Linked DNA regions of Homo sapiens: regions 2, 3 and 4 are each linked to region 1. The links come from fine-mapping of genetic effects on gene expression. A gene starts in region 1. Each other region holds a variant in brackets. All regions are shown on one strand. Distances are between the middles of the regions. Region 1 holds the start of METAP1D (methionyl aminopeptidase type 1D, mitochondrial). Region 2 overlaps METAP1D (methionyl aminopeptidase type 1D, mitochondrial). Region 3 overlaps METAP1D (methionyl aminopeptidase type 1D, mitochondrial). Region 4 overlaps METAP1D (methionyl aminopeptidase type 1D, mitochondrial).

Region 1 (5,332 bases):
ATACTTTTAATGAGCTTAACTTTGAGCCAGGTACTGTGCTTATAAAGACAGAAAGATACATAAGACAAAGCTTCTGTTCAACAAGAATTAATAATCTAGTAAGGAGCAGAAATGGTGAGAGGAGCTAGGTAACTACTGTATATAGGGTATACTGTGACCAAAGCCACAATGAGTTGAGGCGTCACAAGAGAAACCTCATGCCTTTTTTAAAAGGTTAAAAAAAAGTCTTCCTCTATTTCAAGAAGAAATGATGCTCATAAATGCTGATAATAAATCCTGGTACATGAAGACTTGTAATGGATTGCTTTACATAAATCTAGATGGGTGAAAGGGAGGAAGAGGGTGGAGAGAGGAGTCTTCGTGAATTTACCCTTCATTTTCAATTCTTGGGGGTGGGGAGCAGGAAAACCTCTCTGCAATTTAAAACTAGCTATGGGTAGTCCAAAAAGGGGCCCTTTCTCCATCATTAAAATAGCTTCCTGATGACACATTTTTCTTCTCTCCTCTAATCAGAGGATCCACTTCTTGGTTGTTGCAACACTTTGGGATACAGTGGGATGGATTATAGGAACCAATAACTTGGCCTGACTTCCATATAATATATTTTCTCAAGACTGTCTAAACCACCATTTGTCAAAATAATAAGTGATCAAAAAGAAAGAAAAGATTAATGCTATTTCTGTTATCTGCAAAGAGATGTTATATATACAGTTGGTGCAAAGTAATCACAGTTTTTGTCATTGATTCTAAAACTGCAATTACTTTTGTACCAACCTAATACATATATACACACATATAAAAATACGTTTATACATGCATAGGTGTATATATATATACATACATACACCTATGTATGTTTTCAGGTTGTTTTTTTTTTGGCTCCTCCTCTACATTGACTATCTCCTCAGATCCTTCTCACCATTACCTGAAGCATACAAAAATGAAGTCTAAAAGCCATGATTTCTTGTGAAAAGAGGAAACAGAAAAGTAATTAGTAAAGAAAGTTTGGACTGGAACCCAGATCTTTTTTTTTTTTTTTTCAGCTCACTACAACCTCCGCCTCCTGGGTTCAGGCGATCCCTCCCACCTCCACCTCCCAAGTAGCTGGGATTACCAGCATGTGCCACCACACCTGGCTAATTTTTGTATTTTTAGTAGAGACAGGTTTCACCATGTTGGCCAGGCTGGTCTTGAACTCCTGGCCTCAAGTGATCTGCCCGCCTTGGCCTCCCAAAGTGCTGGGTAATATTACAGGCATTAGCCACCTTGCCAGGCCTGGCACCCAGATCTTGAGAGATGTAAATTGGCTGTCTTTTCACAAGGCTACACTCTCATGCTGATGTCCATTCCTTCATGCAACCAGTCCAAAATGCTCGCTACATCACCTTCCCCATACACATCTCTCCCCTCAAATCTTCCTGTGGCCCCTTTCTCATCTCCACTAACACTGAAATACTGAAGTCTATTCGATTACCAACCTTCTTCCTCTCTAAAAATATCTTCCTCTTCACTTCTTATTTTTTATTATTTTTATTTATTTTTTTTTTCTGAGACGGAGTCTCGCTCTGTCGCCCAGGCTAGAGTGTAGTGGTATGATCTCAGCTCACTGCAACCTCCACCTCCTGGGTTAAAGCAATTTTCCTACCTCAGTCTCCCGAGTAGCTGGGATTACAGGCATGCGCCACCACGCCCAGCTAATTGTGTATATTAGTAGAGACGGGGTTTCACCATGTTGGCCAGGCTGGTCTTGAACTTCTGACCTCAAGTGAGCCACCTGCCTCGGCCTCCCAAAGTGCTGGGTTTACAGGTGTGAGCCACCGTGCCCAGGCTCTCTTCACTTTTTGTACACACTCATCCTGCACTGTCTCTGCTGAACTTTACACACTGACTTCTATGGAGTGACCACGTCATGCAGTACCGAGAAATGAGTCTTAAAAAAAAAAATTAGAGTCATGTTCAAATGAGCAATCTGCCTCTTACCATTTATGCGACCTTAGTAATGTTACTTAACCTCTCTAGCCTTACTTTTCCCTTCTGCAAAGAGAAAATAATTCCTAACTCACTGGGTTTTTGTTTTTGTTTTTGAGACAGGGTCTGGCTCTATTGCCAAGTCTGGAGTTCAGTGGTACGATCACGGCTCACTGCAGCCTCTTGACCTCCCAGGCTCAAGCGATCCTACCACCTCAACCCCCAGAATAGCTGAGACTACAGGCATGTGTCACCACGCCCGACTAATTTTTAAAATTTTTTGTAGAGACGGGGTCTCATTCATTGAGTTTTAAAAGGAAGCAAGCATATGTAAGGCGCTTAACACAGTATCGTGTACTTAAAAGGCACTTAATAAACAGTAGCTGTTACTATGAAAATAATATTTACCTCACAAAACTGTTCCTACATGCCTGACGCTTAAGTAGCTCCTCAAAATATGATAGTTTTCCTCTTCCCCCGTCCTTGGAAAAACTTTCTAGTTCTTTCCAACAAAGATTCAGCACCTAGTTCAAATCCAACAAAGATTTCCCCAATTCTGCTGCAAAGGCATTTGTATATTTACTAAAATCTCAACACTCACGCAGGATAAAACCTACTTAGAACTACCCAGACATCCTTTCTTATCTTCTTAACTTTAAGTCACTGGAAGAAAACCATCACATTTTGCAAGTCCCCAAAAAGCATGCCTGCATAAAAGCTCTAGGGAAGGGAACCGGGTGTCCAGATGCATTTCAGAATTACCATAGGTTTCCTTGCTCGGCATACAGAATAAATGTTGGTTACACTAATGATACAACCGAAGTTGGGGAAAAAAACTTCAGACAATGGCCCGCAAATCTCAAGGAGTAATTGCGAAAAGATGCCACGTGGTGACGTGTTCTAGGCGGGTGATCAGTGAACAAATTTGTATGTGTGATCCTGTGGTGTGTGAATGTGTCATCGTGTGTGCCTGCGTGTGTTCGTAAACACTGAAAGTACAGTCGTGTGCGCCGAGAAGTCTGAGCGCGGGTGCGCATCCCTTTGGACCCGGGTGCGTACCTAGTGAGCAACCGTGCGAACCCTCACGGGGCTCTCCTCCACGCGCTTACCTCTGCGGACGAGCAGGTGGACGCCACTGGGCGCCGCCATGTTGGCGTCGGTCACGTGGCCGCGAGCACTCGCTCGCCGCCCCGCCCGCTGGAGCCGGCCAGTCGCAGCCCTGCCGAAGCCCTGAGGCGTCGAGGCCGCCCGAGGGGAGCGCGCGTGCGCGCGCGGGGCTGACTGCGGGAGCCCTGGCTGGGAAGCGGCTAGGGCACCCGGGCAAGCAGCAGAACCCGCGGCCGGCTGAGTCCTCTCCAGCCGCGAGAGGCGGGCTCCAGCCGCGGCTCGCGCGCTCGCTCTGAGCCCCCGCGCCCAGGTGGGATGGAAGAAGCCTGTCAGGTAAGCGTGGCATCCAATATTTATAGCATCAACATTTTGGTGCATGGAAACGTGAAGTTGGGCGGAAAAAATAAAGCACAATCTAGTGTTCAACATAGCACTTTGTATCGTCTGCCACTCTGTTGCAAATTATTCCCCTGGATTCAGTTGAAAGGTAAAATTTGGTTCAAAGTCACCAGCTCCCCTTTTGCTGTCCCAGAATCTACATTACTCAGCAGAGACTCCAGACAACACAGGATCTGTGTGTCGCTGCAAAATCTATTCTAGGTACCCCAGTGGGTATGTTCAGGAGACTTCTCTTTCTCCAAGGACGCCTTCTGCTTGGCAGTATTAACTGGAGTCTTAATCCTAAATTTGGAGTTTAAGTATAAAAGGATGACGCCTGCCAATTGCATTGCCAAGAGAAGAAGCCTACAGAAGGCCAATTGTGAATCAGATGAGGGAGCTGATGTATGCCTACTGATGACGGTGCCCATTTTTACCAAATTCACTGTCTCTCTTACCTGTGTTCTGGGGTAGATGCCATCCTGTCATGGACCAGGTGTTATTCATCTTAGTAGCCTCCGTGCCCGGCACAGAACCCGATACCCGAGGAATGTCAGGTGAAGCAATTGAACACTGCATGAAACCAGTCAAACTGAGAATGTAACCGTTTCCAGACTTTAAATGCAGTGAAGATTGATTAGGATTCTCAGTGAATGTGTGTGATGTCTTCTAATTAATTTTTAAGCACTACACACTCAGTGAATAATCTAGACAATTCAGAACAATTCAGAAATAAGGAACAAGTGCAAGCCCCTTCCTCGCCCTCTGTACATACCATAGTCCCACTCCCCAGTTAACCACCGTGTGCTCAATTGAGATCTTTGCCTTTTACACACAGGCAAATGTAAGTATTTTAAATAGAATCATATGACTTGCTTTTTCCATTCCAGTCATCATAGGCATCAAATCTTAGAACACTTAGTTCAGACTTATTCTTTTTAATGACTATATAATCTTGATATTTTTACTTTTAAAGAGAGTGAATGTTGGCATTTCATTAGAGGACACATGCTATAATTCTGGAAAACCTGGTTTTGGATGCTTTTGGGTCACCTTGAAAGATAAAGAGAAGTAATGCTTTCCATCAGGGTAAATAAGATGCACAAGAATGAGAATAAAATGTACTCCTACCTTTTGCAAACTCATTTCAATTCCAGGGAGAGCATTTTTGAATGTGGCAAATCTGTCCTCTGTGTAACTGAGGCCAGCAATCTGAGTGCAGCAAAGGAGCCTGAGAGTTAGCTGGCCACAGAGTCTTAAGCAGTGTACAGAAAAAAGAAATCTAGACATCCCTATTCCTTAAGGCATCAAGCCTAGTTTCAAACCCATCTGAAATAGAACACATGTTCATGTGACTTAACTCAGCCAACCCTTGGAAAATAAATGAATGCTTTATTCCCCTACAACTAAAAGGAAAAGGAAACACTATGAGGACCCAGGTGGCACCAGCAGTAGTGGAATCCAGTGAGGAAATCCTCAATAAGTTCGGCATGGAATGTAGATATCTGGGATGAGCTAGAAATGAAGCAAATATGAACTTGCACAGGTGATAGCTCATCCACTGACCCTGGATCTGGCTTCTCTCATACACATCCTTCTCACCGCAGAAGGGTTAAAAGCTGCCAGCACATGTCCGCCAAAACCATCAACTTATGGGATATAAGCTGGGTGTGGTGGCTCATGCCTGTAATCCCAGCACTTTGGGAGGCGAACGCAGGCAGATCACTTGAGGTCAGGAATTCGAGACCAGCTTGGGCAACATGGTGAAACCTGTCTCTACTAAAAATACAAAAATTAGCCAGGCATGGTGGTGCATGCCTGCAATCCCAGCTACTCAGAGGCTAAGGCGGGAGAATCACTTGAACCTGGGAGGCAGAGT
Region 2 (5,332 bases), 68 kb before region 1:
ACAATACTACTGTAATATTTTGATTCCTCACTTTATTTCTGAGAAGACAAAATTATATAAGCAAAAATTAGTAGCCAAAGACCTTGATCTACAATTACCACAACAGGTTTAGAGAACCAAAAAGTATTTAACATAGTGAAAAGTTTCTTCAATGTCATGAAGACTTACTTGATTTTGTATTTACCAGTTCTACATTTGAAGTGATATATAATGACAAGAAGAAGTAAGATAGACATGTCTGTATTCTAACAAACAAATAGGAGAATTCAGTTCTAAGAATTGAAGTGGTTCCATATAGGAATGAAATGTGTTACAGAAAAATCCTATGTCTAGAAGTGAAATCTTAATCAAATGTTCCAGACAGCCGAACGTTAACAGAAAGCACTATATATGGATATCTAAAGAATTAGAATATAATAAAACAAGCTTAAAAGCACAATTACAGAAAGTATAATTTTATCAGTCTTCAGTGATTCAGAAGCCAAGTAGGATCTTGAAAGATACCAGATTCATTATAAATCATTGATAACCAAGCACTATAGTAAATATAAAAGGCAGAGGCAACTGTTTGGATACTGATCCTTTGATGTAGCATGGAATTTGCTACTTTGCATAAATTTGTCCTATCTAATTATTTTTCACATTTCTCTTGCTCATAAGGTAGAATGTAGAAACTGTTATAAAAAAGATGTTTATATGAGCTTTCAGTCTGTTGTGATACTGAATTAATGTCTTAAATCTGTATACTACTCTGCATTTCTTAAAAAATGCTCTCATATTCTGTGAAGGAAGCAAGAAAGGTCTTTATTAGATCTTCAGTTTATAATTCAGGAAACTGAGGCACAGATAAGTAACTTGTTTAAGGTTGGTGGCAGAATATAGAGGTAGATTCAGGTTAATATGATGGATTATTGGCTTCTAATCGAGTGTTTTCTCTACTATATCAAATTATCTTAATTACCTTGCAACAGAATAGTGTTTTATACATTTACTCCCACTTACAGTCCTTTGCAATCCAGGAAAGTATGAGTTTTTATTTTATACACTTGGCAGTATTTCACTTTGCTTCATAGGTTTTACAATTTTGAAATAGTTTGAATGTTAATAATGAAACTATTAAAAGTCTTCAGGAAACTTAGAAAAGGAATAGAGTATTCTCTTTGGACACATTGGAAACAGTAGGGAAGACTATGCTGATTTCGTTCAAAAATTCAAATTTTTATATTCTTATATTTCATTCAAAATACAAGAATACTATTTCAAAATACAAAATACGATTTCATTCAAAATACAAGAATATAAAATTTGCTAATATAGGCGTAGTCAAGAAAATGTATAAATGAATGTTTATATAACTGCTTTTTAAGTAAAAATGTACTATTTTAAAAAATCTTTATTCATCTTTTCATATTACTTTTTCCTAGCTTTGAAAATGATTACTTGAGGCTGGGTGCAGTAGCTCACGCCTGCAATCCTTTGGGAGGCTGGGATGAGAGGATTGCGTGAGACCAGGAGTTTAAGACCAGCTTGGGAAACATAGTGAAACCCCATCTCTACAAAATTAAAAAATTAACCAGGTGTGGTGGCACACGCCTGTAGTTCTAGCTACTTGGGAGGCTACGGTAGAAGGATCACTTGAGCCCAGGAGTTCAAGCTTACAGTAAGCCATGATGGCACCACTGCACTGCATCCTGAGTGACAGAGCAAGACCCTATATCTGAAAAAGTAAAAAAAGAAAAGGAAACAAAGAAAAAGAAAAAGAAAGGAAGGGAGGAAGGGAGGGAGGAAGGGAGGAACGAAGGAAGGAAGGAAGGAAGGAAGGAATATCAAAATGACTATTTGAGACTGGTGCAGTGGCTCACACCCATAATTCCAGCACTTTGGGAGGCGGAGGTGGGCGGATCACTTGAGGTCAGGAGTTCAAGACCAGTCTGGCCAACATGGTAAACCCAGCCTCTACTTAAAATACAAAAATTAGCTGGGTGTGGTGGCGTGTGCCTGTAGTCTCAGTTACTGGGGAGGCTGAGGCAGGAGAATCACTTGAACCCTTAAGGCGGAGTTTGCAGTGAGCTGAGATCCTGCCATTGTGCTCCAGCCTGGGCAACAGAGGGAAACTCCGTCTGAAAAAAAAAAAGACTACTTAAAAGATTCACTATATACAGAAATACAATACTTTTGAAAGTCTGTGGCAGTCATCTACAATTTCTATTTATACCCATAAACTAGTACTTGTACTTCATTTATTTATTTATTTATTTTTTGAGACAGAGTCTCGCTCTGTCACCCAGGCTGGAGTGCAGGGGCGCGATCTCAGCTCACTGCAACCTCTGCCTCTCAGGTTCAAGCAATTCTCCCTGCCTCAGCCTCCTAAGTAGCTGGGATTAGAGGCTCCTGCCCCCACACAGGGCTAATTTTTATATTTTTAGTATTTTTAGTAGAGATGGGATTTCACCATGTTGGCCAGGCTGGTCTTGAACTCCTGACCTCAGGTGATCCGCCTGCCTTGGCCTCCCAAAGTGCTGGGATTTCAGGCATGAGCCACTGCGCCTGGCCCTTGTACTTCATTTAACAAATATTTATTGAGCAACTACTATGGACATCGCATTGTCTTTAAGAAAAACATTTTTCAGTTTTAAAGGGGGGAAGGAAATCTAATTTCTTGTGATGTATACTAGACGTCAATAATTCTAAGATGCAATGAGTATTTTCTGATAGAAACATAGGATCTGATAATGGAGTCCTTCACTTAATAAAATATTTTATAAGAAATATAATTTGTTAAGATATGGACCTATATGTTTCCTAGATTCCTTCACATTTCTAGACACTTGGAAATATTTCACTTTGCTTTATAAGTTTT[G/A]CAATTGTGAAGTAATTTGAATGTTAAATACAAAACTGTTTATTAAGTATTCAGGAAACTTAGAAAAGGAATAGAGTATTTTCTTTGGACACACTGGAAACAGTAGGGAAGAGTAGTTGATTTCATTCAAAACATTAAAATGGTAACATTTCATGATAGGGTGACTAGATGAGAAAATAGATGTAAAACCGTAAAATCAGGTACAATCCAAAATAAAAGTGTCTCATGAAAAGAACTCTGTTTTAGGTATACTTCATAAAATACCTCCTTCCACATGATTCTGAGTTGGAAAGATACCAACAGGATGTATGTGGTGCAAGTGTTCAAGCATTTTAAGTAGGATAAAATGATACAGGAAATAGCATCAGCAATGAAAGAATCGTTGGCTATCTCCTCATATGATTGATATGAAGAAAAAAGGTTTAGTTAACTTAAACTAAAAGTCAGACTGAATTCCACCATTGGATTCCTATTTTTATCTCATTCCCACTCCTACTTCAGTTTCATGGTCTAGATACTATTCTTAAAAACACTTCCTTATTAATAGAAATTGTATTCCCTGAATATTGTCATTTCAACTAGTTCTCCTAAGATGTTTAAATTTTGTTTATTTATTTAAAATGTATTTGTTAATCATTAGATGTACAGAATTTATTTATAATCTAGGTAATCCAAAGGTATCATTACAAAATTCTTTAATAAACAGAAATGTAAAAGCACATATAATCCAAGTCTGAGAATGGTAAAAGGCTAAGAAAATGAGAAAAAGCTACATCTTGTACAATTTGAAGTCCCTATGATAAATTACTTAGGCTTGTTACTTAAAAGAAAGGCTATTAACCATTTGGTGAAAACTTAAGTTCAGACAAAAAAACCACTCTGCTTACTTTGAGCACAAGGCTCTCTATACCAGAAATGGAACTCAACGTTACCTTCAGGGATTTTAATAAATCTAGGGAACACTGCTAGCAAAAGAGTTGCTGTCCAAATAGACTGACATACACAGGCCAATGTAGCCCCTAATGACAGAGTAAGATAATGACAGGCCCCACTCAAAATCAGCAGGAAGAGGAAGATCAATCTTGGCAGAGTGAAGGAAAAATGCTGGCTTTCTTCGTGTTAGCTCATCTCATACATATCTAGCTTCAGCAGCTGCCCAGTGCTGTGGTGCTCTGCGTTAACTACACAGTGGATCAATAACAATTACACCTTCTCAAAAACATGACACATAGCAGGATTGGGTTGACATTTCACTTAGGCCAACATTGATCTCAGTGCATCTGATTGCAGCCCTAAATTCAAGTCAGGCCTGGGTTTACTTGGAATAAACACAGAGTTAAAGACAAAAAAGGAAACCAGCTGCTTGCGTCTGGGTCTAGAAGTAAACAGCACTTCCACTGGTGCAGTTCACATTTTCAATCCACTCTTCCTGTTGCTACCAGCAATTCTGAAGTTGATCAAAGACAATTTTTTATATGATTTACTCACTGTGACATCAATGTTGATAATATCTCCATCCTGAAGAGGTCGACTAAAACGTAAACAGAAAAAAAAATGGTGATAGACAGATCTCAATAAAAGGAAAATAAAAATAAATACTTAATGACTACTGTCACAAACCCAATGGGATGCAGTGATAATTTGGAGTGAAGGAGGACTACACAGGATAACTAAATCTAATCTTTATTTCAAAAGATGCACTTAATTTATTACCTTAATTTTGCCAAGAACCAAAACAAGAGTTGATAAGAAAAATTTGCCACATTTGAATTTTACCACTTATATGATTAAAATCTAAGAAGTAAAAGACATACGTAATGCACAACCCCCATTTAGATTATGCACTGCTTTAACAAACATTAAATGGTGGTGGTGTATCCATTTAGAAGTAAAATACTTCAAAATTTCTGTTTTATCATAATCAATTTCAGAAGTTTACCGGTGGGTTTCAATTGAATGATAGTGTCTTTCAACATATGTTACAGATCTTAGCTTCATGTTTTAGTTTCCAAAGGAACAATATGTTATTAAGAACTGAATACCTGTCAGGAATACCATGACAGAGCACGTTGTTTACAGAGGTACAAACAGATTTTGGAAAACCTCCATAGCCTAGAGGTGAGGGATAGGCATTATGACTGATGATTTCCCGATGAACAAGAGCATCTATCTCTTCAGTTGTCATGTCAACCTAAAATGTTAAATAAAGAAATTGTGCAGCAACAATTGAAGACATTTCTTGTATTTATCAACTATGCTATAGCAACAGTACTTCCATGTGAGACTGTATAAATTTACTATGATAAAGTTATGGTACAACATTTGAATTAATTATGATTAGTGTTAGAATCCTCAACTGTGCCTTGTGGACAATCATTTGGGCATATGATGGTGTTATGGACCATTAGGAAATAGAAATGTTAAACCCTACGATCCTCTAAATCATTTGTGAGTCATTAAATGACATAACTC
Region 3 (5,332 bases), 51 kb before region 1:
GTCACCAGGCTAGAGTGCAGTAGCACGATCTCGGCTCACTGCAACCTCTGCCTCCCGGGTTCAAGTCATTTTCCTGCCTCAGCCTCCCGAGTAGCTGGGATTACAGGCACCCACCACCACGTCCAGCTAATTTTTGTATTTTTAATAGAGACGGGTTTCACCATGTTGGCCAGGATGGTCTCGATCTCCTGACCTCGTGATCCGCCCACCTCGGCCTCCCAAAGTGCTGGGATTACAGGCATGAGCCACCGTGCCTGGCCAGGAGGAATGCATTTTAAATAACGAATGTTGCTGCACACAACATGCCCTATATTTATTGGCCTCTTACTCAGGGTCCATTTTAATTGTTATCTGCTCATGCATCCTATACCACATAATGAAATGCTTCCATTTCACCCACTGAGCCCTGGGTTTTCATGTGCACCTTTACTAATGACCCTTAATTAAGCTGATTTTATCCCTGAAAATGTGAGTTTTCTTTTGGTCAATAAGTATTTTTAAGGGAGAGGTCTGAATGAACTTTCAAAGAGACATTTAAAATGCTTATTATTTTAAGCAGTTGTAAAACTGAACAAAGTACATTTGTACTCAAGTTTGGACTACCAACACATATATTTTTCATTGTATGTTTCCAGGGAAGCACTTTCACCCTGCAGTGTGCCATCAATCCTCAGTTACGTTACACTGCAGAGGTATCAAATATCTGGGTAGAAAACAACACAATAATGTAGCTTGGCACTACTTTACATTAGCTAACAATGTCAACCAGAGATAATATGTGATTTAAAAGACACCCTGTAAAATGTCTTACTGAATATATTTTTTCATAATGATCAGTAAATGCCAAAGTCTAGTAACAAAACTATTATTTATAGCATGTTAACATCTAATTGATTTTACAAATGGAGGCAATTATTTTGGATGAAGAGAGGAATGCCTGCCAGATTTAAATGATTTATGATTACCAAGAGAGAAAAACAACAATGTTTTGCTAATTCATTTTCAAATATGGTTCTTACATTCATTGATGATTTTAATTTTAAACCAAATGATTTGCTTAATAATATATTAACTTTAACAAGAAAAAAAACCCAACTTACTTTGTGACAGCAATCTGATACATTTTTAACTGTTTAAAAATGTTGCCTCCTACAGTAAGCTCAGAAGGGACTATAGCATAGGAATATATTTTCGGGGTGCTGATTTAGACCCACAGAAAGATCACACTTCATGAACTCCAACCAATTACTCAGAGTAGGAGCACAGGCTCTTACAGCGCTGTGTGCTTCAAGTCCATGAGAACACTGCAAATGCATCCATGCCTTATATTTCTTGACCTAAAACACTGATTGCTTGACATGTTTCATAACTTGTACAAATGTTGCTAAAGAAAAATTAAATAGTCTGCATCACTTGATATAACTCTTTTATTGATTTTTATAATCTAGTACTAAGGTGTACGTTTCAAAATAAATGAGAAAGATTGAAGGTTCCTTCCCATCTCAAGGCAACTATAAAGCAGAAGAGAAGCTCACATTTCATGAGAAATAACCTATGCATTTGCTGAGGGAAAAAAAACCACATGCACTACTAGGGAATGCCCCAGGCTGAAGCAGATACTGATTGGGCAAAGCTAAAGGACAAGAGCCCTTGAAACTAAACAAAAGCAAATTCATCTGTTGACAGATGTTGATTACATCAAAGCAACAAGGAACTCCCCCAATTCCCAATTTTTAAAACAATTAATACAGCTCTATAATCTACACAATAAGGACAAAGTTAAGTTTTTTAACCGATCATAATAAACATTAGTGAACTTGTTTTAAAAGAGTTTCAGTTCAGTTACAGACTATTCTAGTGTGTTTTTAGCTATGGGCTTCTCCAAACAGTGGTTTATTCATTCCCATGGACATGCCTGGGAAGCCAAGCTGGCCATACCATCAGCCCCTTCCTTCCAGGGGTTAACTGCTCTGGCTGCCAAATAAAATACAGAGCGAGCCATGTAATTATGGAGACAGTCAAAGGGCAGGCTCTATTTTGAAATCTATTTGCACAGACAAGGTCTTCCAATTGAACTTACAGGAAACAAGCTGGTAAAGAGCCTCCTTTTCCCCAGATGCTTTCCACACTTTTTCTCCAATGCAGGAAATC[G/A]TGGATATGGACACCATACACCACTGCTTCCTGGATTTCAAGCTAAGATGCCATTACAGAGAGAAAAGTGGATCTGTTTCACCAACCTTTAAAAAACATTTTTTTGGCCTAATTAACAGCATTTGGCAACAGCCTCTGGATGATAAAGCCACAGTGTTTATTAAACAACATTTCTAAAGAGGATGCAGGCCCAGTTGGTATGCAGGTGTTGGAAAACAGCTCATTTTCTTTAATGCTGAAAATAAAGCACATAGTTGAATCTAAAATATGTGGGCATAATACTTGTCTGAAATAAATATTCTACTTCACATCCAACCGTGTTGTCCTTGAAGTTATTTTTACTTAAGACCACTAAAACAGTAACAAAGATCCCACAGAAATAAAAAGGAAATGTGTGCAATATTTTAAATGACAAAAAAGTCATAACTCACTTTTATGCTGAAACATAAAAGTTTATCCTAGTTGTTTACTGCTCTAAGTTTGCAATTTTTATGAGGATGCATCATTCTCATATTAAGGTAGGACTGGGTCACTACTACTAATAAAATTCACCTCAAATGAAGTTGAGATGGATACTGGTCTGTAGATGTCAGAATTCATCTACAGCCTGGGAGTCTTGGTTCTAGAAAAGATGAACTGGAAAGTCAGTCACAGAGCGCTTCTGGGGAGAGGAAGGGCAGCAGCCTGAGGGTACCCTCTTCCAATAATAACAACATTTAAGAGTGGTGCCCAGGTCACTGCAAAACGTGACCTTCCCCAAGGCCTAATCAGGAAGTTGGCGCTATACTATATACCTCCTCCTTTAAATAAAATTATCAATAGCAACTGATAGAGTATAACATCAATGACAAGTTCAGAAATGTTTTACGAAAACACTTCATTTTGCTTCTTTACAAAAGCTAAATCTGTTAATATGTGATTATTCACTAATGTACACCACCAGCACACAGGCATCTGTATTTAAAACAAGAAGCATTCCCCTCTTTTTGGGAAACTAAAACACCTCAACCTACTCTAGAAACACAGATCTATAAACATTCCTACTTAATAATATAGGCTCCTGCTTGTGAGTCTAGGAAAAAAAATTCCTTTAGGCTAGCCGAATTATAGCTGGGGGAAGGGTGCCAAAGATTATAGTCAGAACTCAAGTATAAAACTAAAAGCTGATCATTTGGTGGATAAGTAGAAGTTACATAGAAATGTTTAATTTGTACAATAGGGCTATTGCATGGAATTTCTCCATTTGAGACAAAAAAAGTTTACTTCAAAATTTAAATTCATCTTTATAAAGTATTGAGTCACAATGAAATGGTATATACTTGGCAAATCCCATTGTCTCTCAGCTAAAGTTTAGAGAAAAGCAGCTTTTTAGCACTTCAACAATACATATACTCAGGCAACTTCTTGGACAAAGAAATATTGTATCCTTACAGAGGAAATAAAGAAGCTGTTTATTAGGGCCGTGGTTAAAATGTAATAATTCATTCTAGTTGAGCCCTGTGAAAAATGTCATCAAAATATCATTTTCTTTGTCAGATTTTCTGGATGCCTTAATATCATTTAAACACAGAATAAAAGACAAGCTCTCATCAGAGTAGAAGCACAACACTAAAATGAACCAAAACCAAATGCTCTGTCAAAGTTATAGGAAAGAATTTCACACAGTCCTGCTACCCAGGGAATGCACACTTCTAGGTTAGCACAGAACATCTGGCAAATTTCAACCTTCCAAAGTCTCTCAAAAGAAACATTCCTGTTACCTCACACACTTTGGTTAAAGAAGAGGAAAATAGAATGATTTTATATTAAAGCACACAAATCAGAACCAGAAAGAGCAATTTCATAGGAATCACACATGGAACTGAATTTTAGAGAAAGTCTATATAAAAACATCATGAGTTTTTTAAAAAAAAACTGATATAGTAACAAAATCCTTCTTTAATTCTTAAAAAAACCTCCAGACTATTCATAAATACTACTGTCATATACTACTTAAAATATTAGTTATTTTGTATTAAAATGCCCAATAACAGAAGATATGAGGGCTTATAATCTATGATCAAAAGCACAGCTTTAATATATTTTTAAATTACATTAAAGCATTTGAAAAGAGCATGATTTTAGTCTTCATATTACAATAGTGTCAACTGAATTCTAGATACAGCATGCCCTAGGTATATTGCTGGATGTCTTTCTTTCCTTTTTTCTTTTCAATGGGCCATTGAAAGTTATTGCCACACAAGCAAACCATTGGGATGAAATAGCTCAGAGCTTTGACCAAAATTGTAGTATCAATATCAAAAACAAATAAGACAAAAAACAAAAAACCCTACATCTTAAACTTCCTGAGAAGATTTTCACTGTACATCTCTAAGTGAAAGGCATGGGATAGAAAGAAAACATTTGAATATCAATCTTATCGTGGTATTTTGACAACTGTAGGAGTTTTGTCTCTGCCCTGTAACCAGTCAATAGGAGTGGTAAATCGGTAGGTAGATAGGTCAATAATTACTACCTAAAATGAGAAAGCTAATGCTTCAGGAAAACAATATATTTCCAAGCTTCTGCAGTTGAGAGTACACAGATTCAAGACAACAGAAGCCAAGATCACTCATCAAGGAGTTATTTTCAACCAGAAAAATAAAGAGAAAGTATACAGTAACCTCTTTAGTAAAAGCAAAAGCTCCAAATTTTCTGAAGGCAGCTTTTTGGACTGGTATAGTTATGTTGCCCAAATAATTTTACACTCAATTCTACTAGGTATACCTGGTTGACCATATGAATACTCACTCGACAGTTTTTGGTATTAATTCAAAAAGTACAAAGTGTTAAAATGGCACAGGCTTAAAAGGGGAGCTCCATAGATGCCTGCTTACAATTTGGCCCATATATATGTGTATGTGTGTGTATATGTATATAAGTAAACATAAATATAAATATGTATATAAGTAAATATATGTATATAAGTAAACATAAATATAAATAAACATTTATTTAAATATATATACTTATATATTTAAGGATATGAATGTTCAACTATCTGTTACTTTTTGTACTAAAGATTAAAAATTAAGCCAGGCTGACGCCTATAAACCCAGCACTTTGGGAGACTAAGGCCTGTGAATCGCTTGAGTCCAGGAATTTGAGACCAGCCTGGGAAACATGGTGAAACCTTGTTTCT
Region 4 (5,332 bases), 59 kb before region 1:
TATTAAAACTTCTCAAATCACAGTTTTAGATCACAAACCTAGTTTGAAAATTAAAACCCAAATGGCTCAGAAATCAAAGGTGCAAAAATATTTGATCACTTCTGCAGTCAACTTTTATCTTGGCTGGAAAAAGCAGGAGATAATAGGCAATACAGTACCTTAGGAACCGGATGAGCTGAAGAAACTGCAGCCGGCAAAACTATACTGTGTGAAATATCTCTTTGTCTCCGAAAAAAGAAATTTCTTCTTTGTTGACTGCTTGACTGCTTGTGTAAGTAGATATGATTGAGTGGTGAAGAGAAAATTCTATGAGAACCTGTGAGCAGAAACAGACATATTTTAAGTAAAAAAACAACCTAACACAGTCCTCCACTTTAAGATGTTGTGGTGTTGTCTATTAAATCATTATTCTAATACCTTATTGACTGAAAAAGGAAAAGCCCCAAATAGAAATGAAAACAGTGGTATTCTGAATTCTAGTACAATAGTAACACAGCGTATTTATTAGCTAATACTATGTTTACATAAATGCGTGACAATGGAAAACTCTACTCTAACGGGAAACAAACATATAGAAACATCTGCTAAGCACCAGGTCTGTAAAAAGAACAATTTCTGCTGTAATACCTTATGTGGCAATGTCCAAGACGACCCTAGATTCAGGGCACTGTTTTGATGGCTTTATACTCTGTAAAGCCGTTTCCTTTCAAGAATCACGGACAAATTGCCAGCTGCACTTTTTGCCCTCCATAGGATTACTACTCTGTGTTAAGTTCACGTGCAGTGAGGCATTATACTGAAATTCATTGTGATGAATGTTCAAGTCAGATAAAGACTAAATAGCAAAAATGTAAGTATAACACTGAAAGAAAATGAATATAGGGTTTGAAGTACTCACAACAGGAATTTAGAAATGTCTATCAAAATTTTAAATGCACATATCCTTTGACTCAGCAGTTCATCTCCTAGGACTTTATCCTGCAGACACTATGCACTGATGGATGAATGAAGATGTACCCTCATGGCAGCATTATTTGTGGTAGAAGAAAGTGGGAAACAACTCAAATGTTTCCAAATAGGAAATACCAGTAGGGGACTGATTAAATATATTATGGTATACTTACAGAAAATTCTGGAGCTATTAAAAAGAATAGGCTAAATCATCATCTCTATGTGTTGATATGGAAAGAGGTCACAATACACTGTTAGGAAAAAAGTGAATGCTTAACAAATACATATAAAAAGCCCATTAATGTAAAAGGAGCTTATACATTTATATAAGCTTGCACGTGCTCATAAAATTTCTGGAAATTGATATTTGTAAACAGTGGCTCTTTCTGTGGCTTGTGGTTGGGGCTAGAGGTAGAGAGGAAGACTTTTTTTTTTTTTTTTTTTTTGAGACAGGGTCTTGCTCTGTCGCCCAGGCTAAGGCAACAGTGGTGCGATCATGGTTCACTGCAGCCTTGGATTCCCAGGCTCAAGGAATCCTCCCACTTCAGCCTCTTGAGTAGCTGGAACCACAGGCACATGCTACCATGCCTGGCTAATTTTTGTATTTTTTGTAGAGATGGGGTCCTGCTATGTGGCCCAGGCTGGTTTTAAACTCCTGGGCTCAAGCGATCCTCCCACCTCGGCCTCCCAAAGTGTTGAGGTTACAGGCGTGAGCTACTGCATCCAGCCAGGAAGACATTTTGATTCATTTTATTACTTTCATATTTAGAACAATCTTTTTTTTGTTTTTTGTTTTTTGGTTTCTTTTTTTTGAGACGGAGTCTCACTCAGTCGCCCAGGCTGGAGTACAGTGGCGCGATCTTGGCTCACTGCAACCTCCGCCTCCCAGGTCCAAGCAATTCTCCTGCCTCAGCCTCCAGAGTAGCTGGGACTGCAGGCGCGCACCACCAGGCCCGGCTAATTTTTTTGTATTTTTAGTAGAGACGGGGTTTCACCATGTTGGCCATGCTGGTCTCAATCTCCTGACCTCGTAATCTGCCCGCCTTGGTCTCCCAAAGTGCTGGGATTACGGGCGTAGCCACCGCGCCTGGCCAGAACAATAGTTTTAGAAGTCCCCAACAGGTCACAACTACATGGCAGGGGTCAGAAAACTACAGCTCAAGGGCCAAATCTGGACTGCTGACTGTTTTTATACAGCACAAAACCTAAAAATGGTTTTTACATTTATAAATGGTTGAAAAAAACTTTTTAACCCAATATTTTGTAATACATGAAATTCAAATCTTGGTGCCCATAAATAAAAGGTTCATTGGACCATAGCTACCCTCATTTGCTTACAAATGTCTATGGAGGATTTTGAGCTACAGTGGTAGCTGAGTAGTTGTGAACACATGTTCCACAGAGCCTAAAAAATGTACTCTTTGGCCCTCTACAGGAGACATTTGCTGAATCCTGGTCTAGAGCAGTAGTCCTTAAAATGAGGTTCACAGACCAGCAGTATAATGTCACATAGAAAAAAGATGCAAGGCTGAGTGCGGTGGGTCACGCCTGTAATCCCACACCTTGTCTCTACTAAAAATACAAAAATTAGCCGGGCATGGTGGCGCGCGCCTGTAATCCCAGCTACTCGGGAGGCTAAGGCAGGAGAACTACTCGAACCCGGAAGGCAGAGGGTGCAGTGAGCCAAGATCGCGCCACTGCACTCCAGCCTGGGTGACAGAGCAAGACTCTGTCTCAGAAAAAAAAAAAAAGAAAGAAAGAAAGAAAAAGAAAAAAGATGCAAATTCTTGGGCCCCGTATCGACCTACAAACATAGAAACTGGTGATGGAGGCGGGCAATCTGTGCCTTAACCAGCCCTCAGGTAATCCTGACGCACACGAAGCTTGAGAACTGGCCTAGAGTAACATTTCAGCTGTGAAACATAATGAAAACGTGAATTGCAGGTAAGTACTGGCTTCAAAACTCTGGATCTCTAATTGACTTGGGGAAAGGCACTGATGCAAACAAACCGCAATGATCAGTGATTCAGGGTGATAGGTTTCACTCAATTATGTCCCTCCTTAAAGTGGACTGCAATATTGTTGAATCTAACTTATAGAGGTGTTTTTGGTACTATTTTAAACAATTTCAAGCACTAGACAAAATGTCAGTAATATCATTTCTTTAAAAAGAAGTTACAAA[A/T]CTCAGGTACAGTGGCACATACATGTAGTCCCAGCTACTTTGGAGGGCAGCTGATGTGGGATTGCTTAAACCCAGGAGTCTGAGACCAGCTTGGGCAACAAAGCAAGACTCCTGTCTCTCTAAAAAAAAAAAAGTTGCTTGATAGAGGCAGGTATGTATTGTGTAAAGCTTTTAAAGTATAATATTTCCCTAATGACAATATCACCAACCCTAGTATTGTCAACTGATATATGAGGGACAGGGTAGTGTCCTAGGAAAAGCAGACAGTTGGAAGGCAGAAGCCTGGACTTTTGTTTCAGCTCTACCACTTATTAGCTGTGTGGCCCTGCACAAGTTTCTTCATTTCAGTCTCAGGTGAGAATTGAAATAAGAAATGTGAAAGTGTCTTGCATTTAGAAGATACCCAATAAATAATAGTTCTTTCAAGAATACATAAAAACCTGTAATCCCAGCGCTTTGGGAGGTCGAGGTGGGAGGATCGTGAGATCCCATCTCTACAAAAAATAAAAGAATTAGCCAGATGTGGTGGCTTGGGCCATCAGCTACTGTAGTCCAGCTACTCAGGAGTTCAGCTACTCAGGAGTCAGTCCAGCTACTCAGGAGTCCAGCTACTCAGGAGGCTGAGGCAGGAGAATCACTTGAGCCCTGGAGCTATGATCACTGAGTTATGCACTGAGCTATGATCACACCACTGCACTCCAGCCTGGGCAACAGAGTAAGATCCTGTCTCAAAAAAAAAAAAAAAGTCTGCACAAAAAATAAAATGGGAAAGAAAACATGACCTCCAGTATAGCTTCTAATACTGAACACTTATTATGCCTCAATTACTGTACTAGGCACTTTACATATGTTAGCTCATTAATCTTCACAGAAACTGTATGAATTGTGAACTGTTATTACTCCATGTCACAGTTGAAGATACTGAGGCACACAAAGGAACATGCAGTAAGTGCCAAAGCTGAGAGGGAAAGCAGGCTAAGTTGCCTCTACAAAATGTATTACTTCTCTCACAGGCATGAGAAAAAACAGGAGCTAAAACACAGGGAAATACCCAGAAAATTGAAAAGGCATCACAAAACTATTGTTACTACTACTATTATTTTTCCAAAAGTGGTGATGGGTTGGCCTAATCCACCCACTACCTTAAGCCAAGCTGCCTTCGCTGACCAAACACACGCTTTGGGGAGGTGGCTGCCAGAACTATTAGTTGGACAGTCTGTGGATATGAAATGGAAAATTTGGAAAGACACAGGTGGACTCAATCTATGATTCCACCTCCCTAATTGCATTGCTAGGCAGGACCACATACAAGACACAAACTCACAAGTGTTTCTCTTCTGAGGAAAGTATTATAATTACTATTAATAATGATAATGCTAATATAAATAGTAATAATAACAGTGGTTAAAATTTAATGGACACTTAGATTAAGCTCAGTGCTAGGTGCTCTACATACATTACCTCTTACCAGCTCTGTCATTAGGCAGGTAGCTGTTAACATCACTGCTTTATAGATGAGGAACTAAGGCTCACAAGTCTGGTAATCAATGACCAGGCCCCAAGCTTAATCCTGTAAATCCAAATCCAGGGCTGTGTCTGCCATTCCAGTTGCCTCTCAGCAGTGTGCAGGGGCTCTATGAGTTCTATTCGCTAGTGTGTTTTGTTACATAATGTATTCTTTCAGGGACTAGATTTCAAGGTCAGTTTTTTTTATCATGAAAAATGTAAATATCATGTAACTAGTTAGCATTTAGAATGAAGACACTTTTCATGAAAATTCTTAGAAATGATCCAGTTGGGAGGCACTATGGTAGTGACAACAGCATGAGCTTGGAGGTCAAACAGGTGTGAGTTACCAAAACTTCTGAGACTCATTTTCTTCACTATTAAATGGGAGTAGTAGTGCTCTCCCTACCACGAGCTGATGTGAGCATTTGCTGAGATAACATAAATAGGTAAACCATCTTTTAAAAAATAGGTGCTCCATAAATGCTCCTTTCTTTTCCTTTTCCTTCTCCATTCTTCAACATGTTTACCTGTGGGGTCTCTAAATGCCTTCATTCATTCAACAACTACTTAATGAACTCATTGCATGTGCCATGCTCTGGATTAGAGAATTCAGTGGTGAATGAGGTGACAAGGTCCCGACTCCCAGGGAGCTTACATCCTTGTAGTGGGAGGCAGACATAGGCAAATCAA

Evidence for each region.
Region 2: its variant is fine-mapped to the expression of METAP1D in whole blood (TOPMed, PIP above 0.99).
Region 3: its variant is fine-mapped to the expression of METAP1D in whole blood (TOPMed, PIP above 0.99).
Region 4: its variant is fine-mapped to the expression of METAP1D in whole blood (TOPMed, PIP 0.99).

What each region holds. Positions count from the first base shown.
Region 1 is chr2:171,997,755-172,003,086 of GRCh38, reverse strand. METAP1D (methionyl aminopeptidase type 1D, mitochondrial) reads right to left here and starts at 3,134. Exons shown (of 10, transcript NM_199227.3): 1 at 3,078-3,134. The coding sequence starts at 3,117. It overlaps LOC124905590 (a long non-coding RNA gene), which reads left to right and starts at 3,178. Exons shown (of 3, transcript XR_007087296.1): 1 at 3,178-3,408. RefSeq lists a silencer at 3,140-3,439.
Region 2 is chr2:172,065,323-172,070,654 of GRCh38, reverse strand. METAP1D (methionyl aminopeptidase type 1D, mitochondrial) reads right to left here. Exons shown (of 10, transcript NM_199227.3): 4 at 4,903-5,051; 5 at 4,349-4,391. Among named protein-coding and RNA genes, the nearest start is that of DLX1, 18 kb to the left of the region's middle. The variant G/A (reference allele first, on the strand shown) is at 2,861.
Region 3 is chr2:172,049,168-172,054,499 of GRCh38, reverse strand. All of the region lies in intron 1 of METAP1D (methionyl aminopeptidase type 1D, mitochondrial), which reads right to left. Among named protein-coding and RNA genes, the nearest start is that of DLX1, 34 kb to the left of the region's middle. The variant G/A (reference allele first, on the strand shown) is at 2,152.
Region 4 is chr2:172,056,482-172,061,813 of GRCh38, reverse strand. It overlaps METAP1D (methionyl aminopeptidase type 1D, mitochondrial), which reads right to left. Exons shown (of 10, transcript NM_199227.3): 2 at 159-316. Among named protein-coding and RNA genes, the nearest start is that of DLX1, 26 kb to the left of the region's middle. The variant A/T (reference allele first, on the strand shown) is at 3,134.